2 linked regions of the Homo sapiens genome follow. The protein of the gene in region 2 interacts with the protein of the main gene of each other region in a biochemical or structural test. Each region holds a gene or a part of one and is shown on either strand. Other genes may lie near its edges.

What was found. The genes of interacting proteins can lie anywhere in the genome.
Region 1: the proteins of CCND3 (region 2) and CDK11B form a complex in vitro, tested with the Homo sapiens proteins (one study listed by BioGRID).

The regions. Positions count from the first base shown.
Region 1 is NC_000001.11:1,655,985-1,663,303, forward strand, and holds the start of CDK11B (cyclin-dependent kinase 11B), read right to left. Parts: upstream 3,021-7,319; 5' UTR 2,930-3,020; exon of another isoform or gene 2,472-2,929; intron 1,515-2,471; 5' UTR 1,502-1,514; coding exon 1,391-1,501; intron 1,319-1,390; exon of another isoform or gene 1,281-1,318; coding exon of another isoform or gene 1,272-1,280; intron 1-1,271. UniProt on the Homo sapiens protein: Plays multiple roles in cell cycle progression, cytokinesis and apoptosis. Involved in pre-mRNA splicing in a kinase activity-dependent manner. Isoform 7 may act as a negative regulator of normal cell cycle progression.
Region 2 is NC_000006.12:41,938,801-41,945,999, forward strand, and holds the start of CCND3 (G1/S-specific cyclin-D3), read right to left. Parts: upstream 3,009-7,199; 5' UTR 2,850-3,008; coding exon 2,652-2,849; exon of another isoform or gene 2,362-2,651; coding exon of another isoform or gene 2,152-2,361; intron 1,786-2,151; coding exon 1,570-1,785; intron 406-1,569; exon of another isoform or gene 1-405. UniProt on the Homo sapiens protein: Regulatory component of the cyclin D3-CDK4 (DC) complex that phosphorylates and inhibits members of the retinoblastoma (RB) protein family including RB1 and regulates the cell-cycle during G(1)/S transition.

The sequences.
Region 1 (7,319 bases), on a different chromosome or scaffold from region 2:
GCATATATGACAAGGGACATTAGACTCTATGCCAAGTATGTTAGTTGCTTATATGAGCCAAAAATGAATCTTAAGGCGTATCTTGCAAACCAAATACTTTGTGATACCTCATATGGTACAGGCATCCCTTGGAGATATTTTGGGTTTGGCTCCAAAACACCACAATAAAGTGAGTCACACAGATTTTTTGGTTTCCCAACGCATATAAAAGTTTGGTTTAGGTCAGGCATGGTGGCTCACGCCTGTAATCCCAGCACTTTGGGAGGCTGGGTGAGGCAGGTGAATCACCTGAGGTCAGGAGTTCCAGACCAGCCTGACCAACAAGGTGAAAGCTCGTCTCTACTAAAAATATAAAAATTAGCCGAGCGTGCTGGCAGGTGCCTGTAGTCCCAGGTACTCAGGAGGCTGAGACAGGAGAACTGCTTGAACACAGGAGGCAGAGGTGGCAGTTAGCTGAGATCATGCCACTGCACTCCAGCCTGGGCAATGGAGCAAGACTGTCTCAAAAACAAACAAAAAAGGCCGGGCGCGGAGGCTCATGCCTGTTGTAATCCCAGCACTTTGGGAGGCCGAGGTGGGTGGATCATGAGGTCAGGAGATTAAGATCATCCTGGCTGACACCGTGAGACCCCATCTCTACTAAAAAATACAAAAAATTAGCTTGGCATGTTGGTGGGCCCCTGTAGTCCCAGCTACTTGGGAGGCTGAGGCAGGAGAATGGCGTGAACCCGGCCCTGGGCGACAGTGCGAGACTCCGTCTCAAAAACAAAAAAAAAGCTAACAAAGTGAGCACATGCTATTGGAAAAATGCTCAATGCAGAGTTGCTACAAACCTTTAATTTGGAAAAATTTCAATATCTGTGAAGCATAATAAAGTGAAGTGCAATACAACAAGGTATGCCTGTACTCACTAACATCCCAAATGATGCTGCTAAAGATCTTAGCAAAAGAGGTACTTTGCCAATGCCTCTTACCAAATTACTAAAAAGGTTTCCTGAGTACATTACCATGCAAACCAAGAAAGATGTAAAATATTTATATTAATTTCAAGGCAAGTTCCCACTATATTAAAAATACTTAGAGATAGTATTATGAACATACTAATGAACCGAGAAAAATTAGTCCAGTTTTGCTAATGACTTAACATTCAACGTATTTTATTCTCCATGTATGCTCAATCTAGACACAGCTTTAGTGTGTTAAATCTGCCTTTAATGTCAACTGAATATTTGAATGTTTTTGTTAATTTTTAGAATAGATTTTGGGCTCACCTGCGACATTTGGAAGTACAAAAGAACTTCACCGAAGAAGCGTTGTTCTAATGGAAAAATGAGGGCAAAGAAATTAAATCTCCTTTAAGAAAACCACTTACTTAAAAAATATGGCTTACATTTTTTAAGCGTTTTATCTCTGCTTTCTCCTCTTGTTCCTTCCTTCGTTTCTTTTCCTGAAGAATTTCATCTAAAGTTTTCACTTTCCAAGAGTCCTTTTCATCACCCATTTGAGTTAAAACACTGCAAAAAGAAAAATAATTCAGCCTACATCAGGACACAGCAAGCTATGGTGCTGAACACTTGAACCTAGTCACTTTTGAGGGATTCAGAATAAATCCTCATTAAGAATAAGAAGTTGTGCCCGGCGCAGTGGCTCAAGACGGTAACCCTAGCACTTTGGGAGGCCGAGGCGAGCAGATCGCTGGAGTTCCGGAGTTCAACACCAGCCCGGGCAACATGGCAAAACCTCGTCTCTACAAAAAATACAAAAGTTAGCCCAGTGTGGTGGCGCGTGCCTGTATTCCTAGCTACAGGAAGGAGGCTGCTAGAGGCAGGAGGATCACTTGAATCAGAGAGGTCAAGGCTGCAATGAGCCAAGACTGCGCCACTGCACTCCAGCCTAGATAACAAAGTAAGACTTGGTTAAAAAAAAAAAAAAAAAAAAAAAAGTAAGCTCTAGGCTGAGGCGGGTGGATCACAAGGTCAGGAGGTCAAGACCAGCCTGGCCAACACGGCGAAAACCCTGTCTCCACTAAAAATACAAAACTTAGCTGGGCGTGGTGGCGGGTGCCTGTAATCCCAGCTACTCGGGAGGCCGAGGCAGCAGAATCGCTTGAATCCGAAAGGCGGAGGTTCCGGTGAGCCGAGGTCGCGTCACTGCACTCCAGCAAGACCCCGTCTCAAAAAAAAAAGAAAAAAAAACAAGAATGATAAGTTGTAAGCCAGGCAAGGTGGCGAGCGCCTGTAGTCCCATATACTCTGCAAGCTGAGATGGGAGACCGATTGAGCCCAGGAGTTCCAGGCTGAAGTGCGCTTGTGAACAGCCACTGCGCTGCAGCATGGGCGACAAAAAAGAGTGATGGGTTCTGAAAAATGACCGCTTGAAATCAAGTCTCGTTTCTGTCATTCTTGTATGGTCTTGGGTAACGTAATTCACCTCAGTTTAGTCTTCCGTACAACCAGAATAACAACACCTACGTGATAGTATCGATCGCGGATTAAAGATCATCCGTTTAAAGGCTCTTAACTCAGGACCTGCCACTCATCAAACACTGCTTTTACTGTCAGAATCTGCTAGAAAGACCGCTTGGACTACGTGAAGCCACTAGCACACTGGACAGCTGCACCTTGAGACCGGGGAGATGCTCCGAGATGTGCTCGCGAACAAGGCCACCTGACCCGGGCACTGGGCTATTTCCTCGGGTTCAGTCCCGCACACTTGAGGTTCAGCCTGGCAGACGTTGGCTCCAGACAGCGTTTGGACCCGCCGCCTCCACCACCCAAAGTTCCGTGCGGGATGAGACTGTCCGCGGAAGCGAGGGTGTCGCTCGCCCCCGGGCCCGGGTCCGCCCCGCTCCGAGGCCTGCTCGGAAGAAAGACCTCGGTGCGCAGTTCTCCTCGCGCTCCCACACCTGGTCCGCCCAGTCGGAACTCACCCCTACGCCGCCGCCGCTGCCGCCGCCGCCGCCGCCGGTCCCGGAGCCAGAGAAGAAACAGCAACCGGCGCGCGCCAAAAGTATCGTCACTTCCTGTATTGGCGCGTAATGATGATATAATAGCCGACCTCCGGCCCAGAACTCGAGACAACGACAGGGGCTCGCTCTGTGCGGCACTTCCTGTGTCTGCGCGGGATGATAACGCATAAAACAGCGCTTGCTCAGGTCCAGGACGCCAGAAGAAACAGCCCGGTGAGCGCACTTCCGACTTCGGCGCGGGCTGTGACGCAGGAATCGGGACTCCGGAGGAGCGACGCCCACTTTTGGAGCAGTTTGCGCCTGCGCGGAACGCGTGGCCGGCTTCCGGAATCCTACCGGGACTTTTCCGGTAGCGAAGCCCGCGCCTGTGCCAAGGCTTGCGAGCAGAATGCCTTCGCGATGGACGCCCGCATTCCACCCCCTTGACCGCTGGGACCCCTAGTGGCGGGTGGGTGGAGCGCGCTCCATTTACCTGCTGGTTACCTCGTGAGGCGCCTCAGGTCTGTGTGTCTTGTAAAGGCCGATCTCGGAATTTAACTCTGAACCTTACTCAGAAACAGGGCAGGGAGAGCTCTTACGATGTGATTTTATTTTATTTATTCATGTATTTACTTTTGAGTCGGAGCCTTGCTCTGCCGCCCAGGTTGGAGTGCAGTGGCGTGGTCTTGGCTCACTGCAGCCTCCTCCCGGGTTCAAGGAATTTTCCTGCCTCAGCCTCCCGAGTAGCTGGAACCACAGGCCCGCGCCACCACGCCCGGCTAATTTTTATATTTTTGGTAGAGACGAGGTTTCGCCATATTGGCCAGGCTGGTCTCGAACTCCTGACCTCAAGTGATCCGCCCGCTTCGTCCTCCTAAAGTGCTGGGATTACAGGCGTGAGCCACCGCGCCCGGCCTTTTACAATGTGATTTTGAAGCTGACACTGGCAGTGGGTCCTCAAAGTGCAGACTCACTGGGTATGGTGCTTCCCCCAACTCCCAGGGCCCCACTCCAAACCCATGGATTCAGAGCATTGCAGGAGAAGAGGATAAAACGAGCAATTAATTCCCTTTCCATATGTCAGGTTTTCCTCTTGACTTGAAAAGTCACAGAAAAATGCTTTAGACATCTGAATCTCAGGAAACAAACAATGGAAGATAAACATCCGCATTTACTGGGCCTGAAATGGGAAAATGAAAGATGTGGCAAGAAACTGACAAGGGCCCAAGAAGGGCGATGGGTATCGGAATTTTTTTCATCCCGGAATGAAATGCTGCTTGCTTTGTGTACCCAAGCTCTTTTTTTATTTTTATTTTTTTGAGACGGAGTCTCGCTCTGTTGCCCAGGCTGGAGTGCAGTGGCGCGATCTCGGGTCACTGGAAGCTCCGCCACCCGGGTTCACGCCATTCTCCCGCCTCCACTCCATTCGCCCGCATTAGGCTCCTGAGTACCTGTGACTACAGGCGCCTGCCACCATGCCCGGCTAATTTTTTTTTTATTTTGGGTAGAGACGGGGTTTTACCGTGTTAGCCAGGATGGTCTCAATCTCCTGACCTCGTGATCAGCCTGCCTCTGCCTCCCAAAGTGCTGGGATTACAGGCGTGAGCCACCGCGCCTGGCCTCCCCCAAGCTCTTAATGTTGCTTCCTGAGTTCTTGGTAACTGGGGAAATCTCCCTATTTTTTTATTTTTATTTTTTTTTGAGACGGAGTCTTGCTCTGTCGCCCAGGCTGGAGTGCAGTGGCGCAATCTCGGCTCACTGCAAGCCCCACCTCCCGGGTTCAACGCCATTATCCTGCGAGCCTCAGCCTCCCGAGTAGCTGGGACTACAGGCGTCCACCACTACGCCCGGCTAATTTTTTTGTGTTTTTAGTTGAGATGGGGTTTCACTGTATTAGCCAGGATGGTCTTGATCTCATGACCTTGTGATCTGCCTGCCTTGGCCTCCCAAAGGGTTGGGATTACAGGCGTGAGCCACAGCACGTTTTTTTCTGTTTTGAGAAAAAGTCTCGCTGTGTCACCCAGGCTGGAGTGCAGTGGCACAATTTTGGGTAACTGCAGCCTCCGCCTCCTGGGTACAAGTGATTCTCCTGCCTCAGCCTCCCGAGTAGCTGGGATTATAGGCGTGCGCCACCACACCTGGCTAACTTTTGTATTTTTAGTAGCGACAGGATTTTGCCATGTTGGCCAGGCTGGTCTTGAACTCCTGACCTAAAGTATCTGCCCACCAGCCTCCCACAGTGCTGAAATTATAGTCATGAGCCACCGTGCCCGGCCAAAAATCTCCAGTTTACCCTTCCTTTGTGAAATCTGTGAGTACCCAAATGCAGCCACTCATGTCAAACCCTAACAAAATCGACCCCAGAGCCCACGAGGAGGGGGTGGCCTCGCACTTGCGCTTGATAGGAGCTGCCACAAAGGCCTTTCCCAACCAGAACTTTGGGTTCAGCCACTTCTGTGAAGAGCCTCTTTGCTAGCAACAGCCAGCCCCACCGGTGAACAAAGTAGCATGAACACCAGAGTTCCACAAGGAAGAAAACAAAGCAGTCCATATTTAACATTTATTTTACTTTGCTGAGCAAGAATCATAGACAGCTACTACCACGGCTGCTTCGTTTGGACAAAAATAACGAGGAGGCATCCACGGGATTAGTTACACGGTATCAACTTACCACCACAGCAGAATCAACAGTGACTCGCTAATTAACAGAACCGTTTGCTAGAAAGCACTAATCTAGTTATATAAATACTGAAATAGGTCACATGCAAAACACTATAAACGTTTTGTGTGATGTACTTTTAGTTCTCCATAGTTTTGTTTGGTATAAAGGAAATATAATTTGGCTGTGACGTAGACTGTTGATGTAATTTTCAAGTTTTCCTGTATGGGGAAAGTTGCCCTGACTGTGGCCCTTTTCAAGGTGGAGCCTCCAACACCACGTTGGCAGATTCAGACTCCGTGAACAGTCTAAATGAGCAAGTCAGCTGAATGCCACTTTCAGATGGAAGGGAAATGAGATGGAAAACAACAAAAAAGGACTGCCAGGCGGAACAGTTTCCAACCGAGTTTTCGTTGAGTGAGGATCCAGCAGCCATCAAACTCAAACATAGGGGCCCGCAGGGAAACTGGAGGAAATACTTCAGAGACAGCAAAGCTGAAGGTTTCTGTGCTCTGAGGGATCCGAGAGTGGATGTCCCACTCCTGTATCCTCAGCCAGACACAGAACTAGCCAGATTCATTAGGGAAGCTCGGATGCTCTCATTCTATAAAGTAAGGCCCCCAGCAGGGCACGTACATACATTGGGAAAGAAGAAACCCCTTAGTACCATGTTGGTCAAAGGCAAGAGAGAGAATTCTATTTCCATCTGGAATGTCATTCTTGTTTACTTCTTCCAACAGTGAAATACTTCCAGGCCTTCGAAAGGCCATCCTTTGGACACATGTAAAAAGCTGTCTTGTTGGCCTGTTATTCCCACTGACCCGTCTGAGTGATCACCCAGGAGCGCGGCGGCAGCAAGCAGAGCTCACCGGATTTGGGACAAGGATTTTAAAGGCAGCTACAAAGCTGAGCTCTATTTGCTGATGATAGTCTCTGTTCAGCTGTTTAAAATGACTGTCTGACTCACCATGGTAATTTTTCACAAATTAAAGACACATTTTGGGTTGTGCAACAGTGTTCTCATCTTTCCAGGCAGGCAGATTATTTTAATGCTGTTATACAGGGAATTGGGACTCTCGGATTTTCTTTTTTAACCTTTTTATGCCTTTCAGTAGGGGAAGTTTCCTTGAAAGAGAGCTGCAAATCTCTTAAGTATCAACGTAAAGAAGCCGATGACCCAATTCGGGAGGTGGTTCAAGTGTTCTGTTCGTTTACAAAAGCACAGACCACGACCATGGACACACCCAGTGGAAGTAACCACACCTGGTGTGTTCCTAGAAGCTCACCTGTGACAGTTCAACAAGAACTTACTATTCCAGAAAAGTATTACACAAAGTTATTTTAAAAAATGTCTGTACAATCGTTAACACGGCCAAGCCAGGCCTTGGGTTTTGCCTCTTGGTGCCCGGCTGTGCTGGGAATGCCATGAAGACCAGCGGCTGGAAACTGACTTGGGCATGGAGAGGAGACTGAGGGAGAGGGAGGGGACAGCACGACTGAGCAAGGGCACAGTGCTGGCTGCCTCATGGGCTCCAGGCTCCTTCTGCCAGGATGAGGAAGAGGCCCCAGAGCAGCGTTACACAGGAAATTACCCTATTTGCTAATCCTTTGGAAAAACGTTTGTTTCTGGTCCACAAACAGAAAATCCAAACAGGATGGCAGCTCCTTGTGAGGGTGGAGGGGAGGGCACCAGATGCTGTGCGGCTGGAAATT
Region 2 (7,199 bases):
GCTGAGGCAGGACCTTGCCCTCCTTCCTTGGGCCTCAGCCTCCTCTGCTGCACACGGATTTGGACCAACTGGAGTTCTCAGAGGTCCCTTCCAACCTTGACCTTCTAGGAAGTCTTTTGGGCACTCCACCCCCAGCTCAGGCAGAGGGAAGAGTACTTTTTGCCTGTACTGAAAAACCCTCATACGTGGGCACACAAACCACCTCCATCTTTTCACAAAAAGGAAGTTCCCCTTCTACCTTCCAGCCCCAACCCCTCCAAAAACATCTTGCTCTCTGGCCCTGGAAACTAGCTCCACCTTCAGACTTGCCAAAAACTACCAGATTCATCACAAAGAGCTGTGGCGCCTCCTGGATTCCCAACTCTGGCCTCCTACTCCCATCTCTGAGCTACTTGGCAGGAAGAGGAATCCTGTTCCTCGACTCACAGCAGTCGGGGGCCCCAGTACCCTGGCTTCCCTGCCAGCCAATCACAGCAGCCTGCTTGCTGCCCTCCTCCCTGGGAGATGGGGCCCAGAGACTCCTCTCAGGGTCAGCAGAAGACTTGGCCCGCCACAGAGCAAGGTGGAGGAAGGTGCCAGCTCACCCACCCTCTCCCCCAGCCTCCCTAGGAGACAATCTGCATGTCCTAAATAACCTCTTCCAGATCCAGCAGCTCCCCCGCCTCCTCCCCAGGCTCCTTCTGAGGCGGGACAGAACCGGTGACTTTCCTGCCCGGCCTGAGCCCAGCCCAAGTTTCCAGCAAGAGGCCCAGGGAGCCACTTCCCAAACCACAGGAGTGACAGCAGCTCCCCACAGGGTTATGAAAGACCTTGGTCAGAGAGGGCGGGCCAGGGGAGGGGGCACCATTATCACATCGGAAGCAGATGCAGCTCACCTCCCTGTCTGTCCCTCAGCTTGGGCCTTGGGCTAAGGGGGGAAGAGGGAGCTGTTTCCACCAGGCCCAAAGCAGCTGCTCCAGTTCCTCAGAATGAGGACGAGGAAGGATTAGGAAGAAGCTGTTTCTTCCGGGATATAAGAGGAAGCAAAGAAGGTGGGATGAAATACATCAGCCCTTCCTTAAAGCAATCAGGGCCTGGCTTTAATTGGCTCTGGGAGGCTTTTCTATCACAAAGTCCACATGAGGATAAAGACTCAACCAAGGCAAAACCCCCTCCCCCACATGAAGCACATTCCACTCCCCTACTCCAGTGGGGGTGTGCAGGCATGCCCTTCTGCTGCCAATAAATAACTCATGGTGGCTGCGTAAACCCAGAGGCAAAGTACTAGTGAGTGTAGACATGCAATTTGACTTGTTGCTATCTGGGGGAAAGACCAGGAAGGAGTGGCATCCCCTGGAGGTCAGGAGGAGGGGGTTTAATGCCTGCCTGCAGCTCAAGCCTGGGCGGGAGTGATACTAACCATCACACCACAATGCCCCATCGTTTGTTCCACCCCAATTCCTTTCCCAAAGGTCCTGATCCCCTTGCTTCCTCTCCAGGGGGCAGAAAGCCTCTGATATCTCAAGCTTTCCTTTTCCTGGAAAGTGGGGAGACAATACGTGTCGGGGGTGGGGGGAGTTACACACGCACCCGCAACTGGCGGGGAGAGACAGCGTGGTCGGTGTAGATGCACAGTTTTTCGATGGTCAGGGGCGTGGTCTCGCGCAGCTTGGAGGCCAGCAGCATGCAGACCGCACCCAGGAGCTGCAACTGCGCCTTTCGGGTGGGGACGCAAGACAGGTAGCGATCCAGGTAGTTCATGGCCAGGGGGAAGACTTCCTCCTCACAGCGCTGCTCCTCACATACCTGGGGGAGGGCGCACAGTCACTGCTGGGTCTGGAGCGTGGGGAACACAGCAGCGGGGGGGTGGGAGCGCTGAAGTGAGGTGGGATAGGGAGCAAAAACGGCAGAGAGGGTAAGCTACTTAGAGAGACAAGGACCAATAAAGGAGGAGGATGCGCCCTCCCCAAGGTGACGCCCCCCACTTCCTCTGCGCGGCCTCCTCCCCTCTCCCCTTGACGGGGGAGTGGTAAAGCCAAGGAGCCCTTGCTCACGGAGGATTCCAAACGGAGACTCCCCTCCCCCACAGCGAGGGGAAGTGGGACGCAAGGGTCACCCATGGTAGCCAGAGAGCTGGGACCTCACCCCCATCACCGCCACCACTGCACACACCCGAGGGGAAGGGAGGAGGCTCCTGCCGCTGCCTCCTGCACTTTTCATTTCCCTGTCGGCCGGAACAGGGCGCGCGCCACCCCCATCGCCTTCCCCGCCAGAACCCCGCGAAAGACACAGGAACCGGCTCCCGGGCGGGGGCGGCCGAGCCCAGGGTTTTCCAGGCGCGCTCTCCGGAGAAGGCCGGGAGGCGGAGGGAAGCGGGAGACGCTGTGAGAAGCCGAAGGGGAGAGAGTGTCCTTGGTCCCGTTTGCTCGGCCCGAAGAGAGGCACAGTTAGGGTGCCAAGTGACTGGCAGTCACTGTCGGGAGGAGCCGATTAGGGCTCGGGAAAGCAAGGGAGGCAGCTGGCGTGGGTGCCCTAGTGAAAGGCCAGGCCCCGGGAGTCTTAGCCTCGGAGCATCCTGCAGATTGCTGTGGGGACCGGGATGTCCCGACAGGGCGGCCCCGGTGTGTCCAGACCCGGGAGCGGTGGGGGAGGGGGACGCGTCCGGGCGGTACCTCCAGCATCCAGTAAGCCAGCATCTTCCGCATGTGCGGCTTGATCTCCCGCTGCACGCACTGGAAGTAGGAGGCGCGGGGTACGTAGCGCTCCTCCAGGCGGAGCAGGCTCTGCAGGACACGCTGGTCCCCCAGCAGCCGCGGGTCCGGCCCGGCCCGGGGCGCGTGCCGGGTGCCTTCGCAACACAGCAGCTCCATACTCGGGCAGCGAACAGGCAGGGCGGGAGTGCGGGCTCGCGAGTCCCAAGGCAGGCGACGGGCCGGAGAGCGCGGGGCGCGGGTCTGGCGCTGGCGCTGGCACTGCGCGGCGGATCCCCAGCCCGCCCGCCGCCCGCGCGCGCGCGCCGCTTCCCTGACAGGCGCCCCGCCCCTCGCGACGATGTAGCAACCGTGGAATGCTCGGACGTCGCAACGCTCCGAGGGGCGGGGCTGCGGCGCCCCGGACGGAAAGGGTTGGCTGAGCGCTCTCCCCTCCCTCCCGCGGCCCCATTGGGCCGCTGAGCGCAAGCCGGCCGGCTTCCGGGCACTCCAGGCCCTCTGGACCACCGGGTGCAGAGAACTTTCTAGGAGGTGGGCCTCCTACCCACCCACGGGCCCTCCCATTTTGCTTCTCGGACTCTAGTCACCCAGGAAACAATTTTTCTCCAAAGGTCATTCATTCACTTATTCATTCGTCAAACCCTACTTCACCGGCTGCTTGCTCTAAGGAATGCGATAAATAATGTCAGAGCTAGTTCTTAGTGAACGCTGCTCGAAAGCCTCACGATGTAATGACTCACTACATCTTCACGAAAACTCGGAAACCGAGGCAACTGTCATTCAGTTGGTCCGTGGCAGAGCTAGGATTGGGAAGCTGGCCTTCTTGCTGCAGATTCTGTGTTCTACACCATTGCTAGTTAAACTGTGATCCCAGACCTGTCCCGTGCGTGGTCATCGCCTGGGAGCTGGTTAGAAATGCAGACTCTCAGGCCCACCCCTAACCTGAATCAGAATCTGCATTTTAACTAGATTTCTGTGCACTTTAAAGTATGAGAGCTTTAGTCTAAGTCAGCATATAACAGAACGGAAAGGCCATGGAGTCATGGCCTCACCTTGTTAAGTTGCTTGCCTAGGTTTGGACAAGCCCCTAAAGTCGGCCTTAGTTTCTGTTTGGAGAAACTGTGGACGGAGAAACTAGATTCTCATTGAATCAGTTTCTTGCACAGACTCTGTGAGATCTACCGGTTGCATTTCTTCCACCTCCCAAACTTTTGGTTACTTTGTAGTTTTACCGGAAGCTAGATTCCACTTGACGAAGAGGCCGAAAAAGACCTCCAATAATGCTCCAAATGGGAGGAGGCCATGAGGATCCCTGCCCTACTGGGGTCCTCCTGACTTAGGAGACACTAAGGAAGTGTCTAACCATTTTCTGTTAATTATTCTTTTTTTTTTTTTTTTTTTTTTTTGAGACGAAGTCTCACTCTGTTGCTCAAGCTGGAGTGCAGTGGTGCGATCTGGGCTCACTGCAACCTCCACCTCCCGGGTTCAAGCAATTCCCGAGTAGCTGGGACTACAGGCACGCACCACCATGCCTGACTAATTTTTGTATTTTTCGTAGAGATGGGGTTTCACTATGTTGGCCAGGCTAGTCTTGAACCCCTGACCTCGTGATCCGCCGGTCTCGGCCTCCAAAAGTGCTGGGATTACAGGCGTGAGCCACCGTTCCCGGCCGAATTATTCTTTCTTATATTATAAATTGTATTGTAGTTTTCATATCATAAAATATTCTTTTACATTGTAGAAAACTTCAAAAATACAAATAAGCCACAAAAAAAGGAAATAATCATTTGCAATTTGCCATGAAATAACCCTTTAATATATCAATGTTTATTTTTCTAATCTTTGTTCTATGAATAAACACACATTTTAAATGGAATCATCACAAACTGTTTTGTAAGCTTTTTTCATTAAAAAAATACTGTTAACACTTTTCCATGCTATTAAATATTCTAGGACATAATTTGTAATAGGGACATAATATACCATTAGGTGAATGTACAAAATGTATTTTGGCAAACCTGTATTGGTGGAAATTTAAATTATTTCTAGTTCTTCTCTATTAGACATAATACTGTAAAATATTTTTGTGGTAATATCTTTGTGCACACTCATGATTATTTCTAGAAGTGAATTAATTTCTAGAAGTGGAATTTCCCAATCTAAGGTTATGAAACATTCTAAGGCTTTTGATACACTTCTAATTGCCAAATTTTCCTGCTGAATAGTTAAACCAATCTTTTCCACCATCATTACATATCTATTTTTCAAAACAACTCTGCCAACTAGAGAGTGAAAGTGGCTTATTAGTAATAATAAATCTATTTTGGCATATTACTAGACATTTACATTTCTTATGTACATTACCCATTCATGTCCTTAGCTTATTCATTTATAGGGATGTTTGTTTTCTCTTATTGACTTATAAGTTCTCATCACCTCTCAAAGATATTAACCCTTTTCATATTTTTTGTTTGGTTTTTTAACTTTGGTTATAAAAATTCTTGACATAAATTAATTTTTAAAATCAGTATTTTTAAAACTTCTCATTTATAGTAACATGGCACTATGTATAAAAATGTCCCATCAGCCCAGCACTTTGGGAGGCTGAGGCAGGAGGATCACTGGAAGCTAGGAGTTGAAGACCAGCCTGGACAACAAAGCAAGACTCCTATCTCTACAAAAAATAAAAAAAAAAAATAAGCTGGGTGCGGTGGCACAAGCCTGTAGTCCCAGCTACTAGGGAGACCGAAGCAGGAGGATCGCTTGAGCCCAGGAGTTCAAGGCTGCAGTGAACCATAACGGCACATGACCTTCCTTAACATTTTGTTATCATACATTTTGCAAAAACAAAATTTTAGTTCATTGTTTTTACTAATTTTTGGTTCACGGTGGATTTTTTTTTTTTTAACAAATAGAAGGGTTTTTTGTGTTTTTCTTTGTTTTTTGGTTTTCTTTGTTTTTTTGACACAAAGTTTTGCTCTTGTCACCAGGCTGGAGTGCAGCTTACTGCAACCTCTGCCTCCTGGTTTCAAGTGATTCTCCTGCCTCAGCTTCCTGAGTAGCTGGGATTACGGGTGCATACCACCATGCCCGGCTAATTTTTGTATTTTCAGTAGATACGGGATTTCACCATGTTGGCCAGGCTGGTCTCGAACTCCTGACCTCAAGTGATCTGCCTGCCTCAGCTTCCTAAAGTGCTGGGATTACAGGCACAAACCACCGCACCTGGCAAATTAGTTGCTGATTTATTAATTGAGGGAGGGCCACATAGACTGACTAGTCCTGAAAGCTGGATGTGAACCTGTAGTATGGGGACGGGAGCTCCTGGTGAGCAGGACTTTAGGAGAGATACTTCTGCCTCACCCCTGGATGGAATAGCCATGCCTAGAGCTAGATCATCCCTGACTTTCAGGGCCAAGGACTGGCCACTGGGGAGGCAGGTGAGCTCAATGCAGGACCAGCACAAGTTCACCAGTTACCTCCACCTCAAAGAAATAGAGGCTCCTCTTGTTTTTCTTGTTTTTGTTTTTGTTTTTCTAAAAGGAAAACTAAAGACAAAGCAATGACCAGGGCCAATAGTATGAGGAGTTTCTACCCAGGTACATCCAGTTAGAAAAAGTCAATAAAATGGCAAATTGGAGGAGGGGTGGGAATGGAATGTCACAGGCCAAATAAGAAACCCCAAGGAGGAAAGATACATTTTCTTTCTCTTCCTCTTCATCATCAAAATACCCCCATCTGGGCCAGGCACGGTGGCTCACGCCTGTAATCCCAGCACTTTGGGATGCCAAGACGGGTGGATCACCTGAAGTCAGGAGTTCGAGACCAGCCTGGCCAACATGGTAAAACCTTGTCTCTACTAAAAATACAAAAAATTAGCCAGGTGTGGTGGTGGATGCCTGTAATCCCAGCTACTCCGGAGGCTGAGCAGGAGAATCACTTGAACCCTGGAGCCAGAGGCTGCAGTGAGCCGAGATCGTGCCATTGCACTCTAGCCAGGGCAACAAGAGCGAAACTCTGTCTCCAAAAAAAAAAGTCCGCATCTGAGAAGTGAGAGGCTGAACAAGGTGATGGGTGAGGCCCATCACCCCACAGTCCACATGCCATGGCTTAGTTACCTTCAGACCCATTGAGATGCTGGGGAGAGCCAAGCGAGCCATGGGGCTGAGAACAGGGGTGCTAAACAGGGTTCTGGAGTCAGAGACTGCTTTCAGTTCAAACCTGGCTCCACAGCTTATGACTTTGAGAGAATTACTGGAACCTCTCTGCTTCCTCTTTTATCCAGTGGGGATAATATAATAGCCCTATAATGATGTTCTGAAAATTAAACAAGCAGAAAATGTCTTACCTGTGCCTGGCACAAAGCAAGCATTCAGAGATAGTAGTTTCTGAAATGATTATTATTATTCCCTTTCTCAAGGAGTACCCTTTCTGTTATGAACATGCATCCATAACCCCTCTAAGAAAAGCAAAAGTTTGAGCAGCAAGAGCCCTACTCCTAGAATTGCA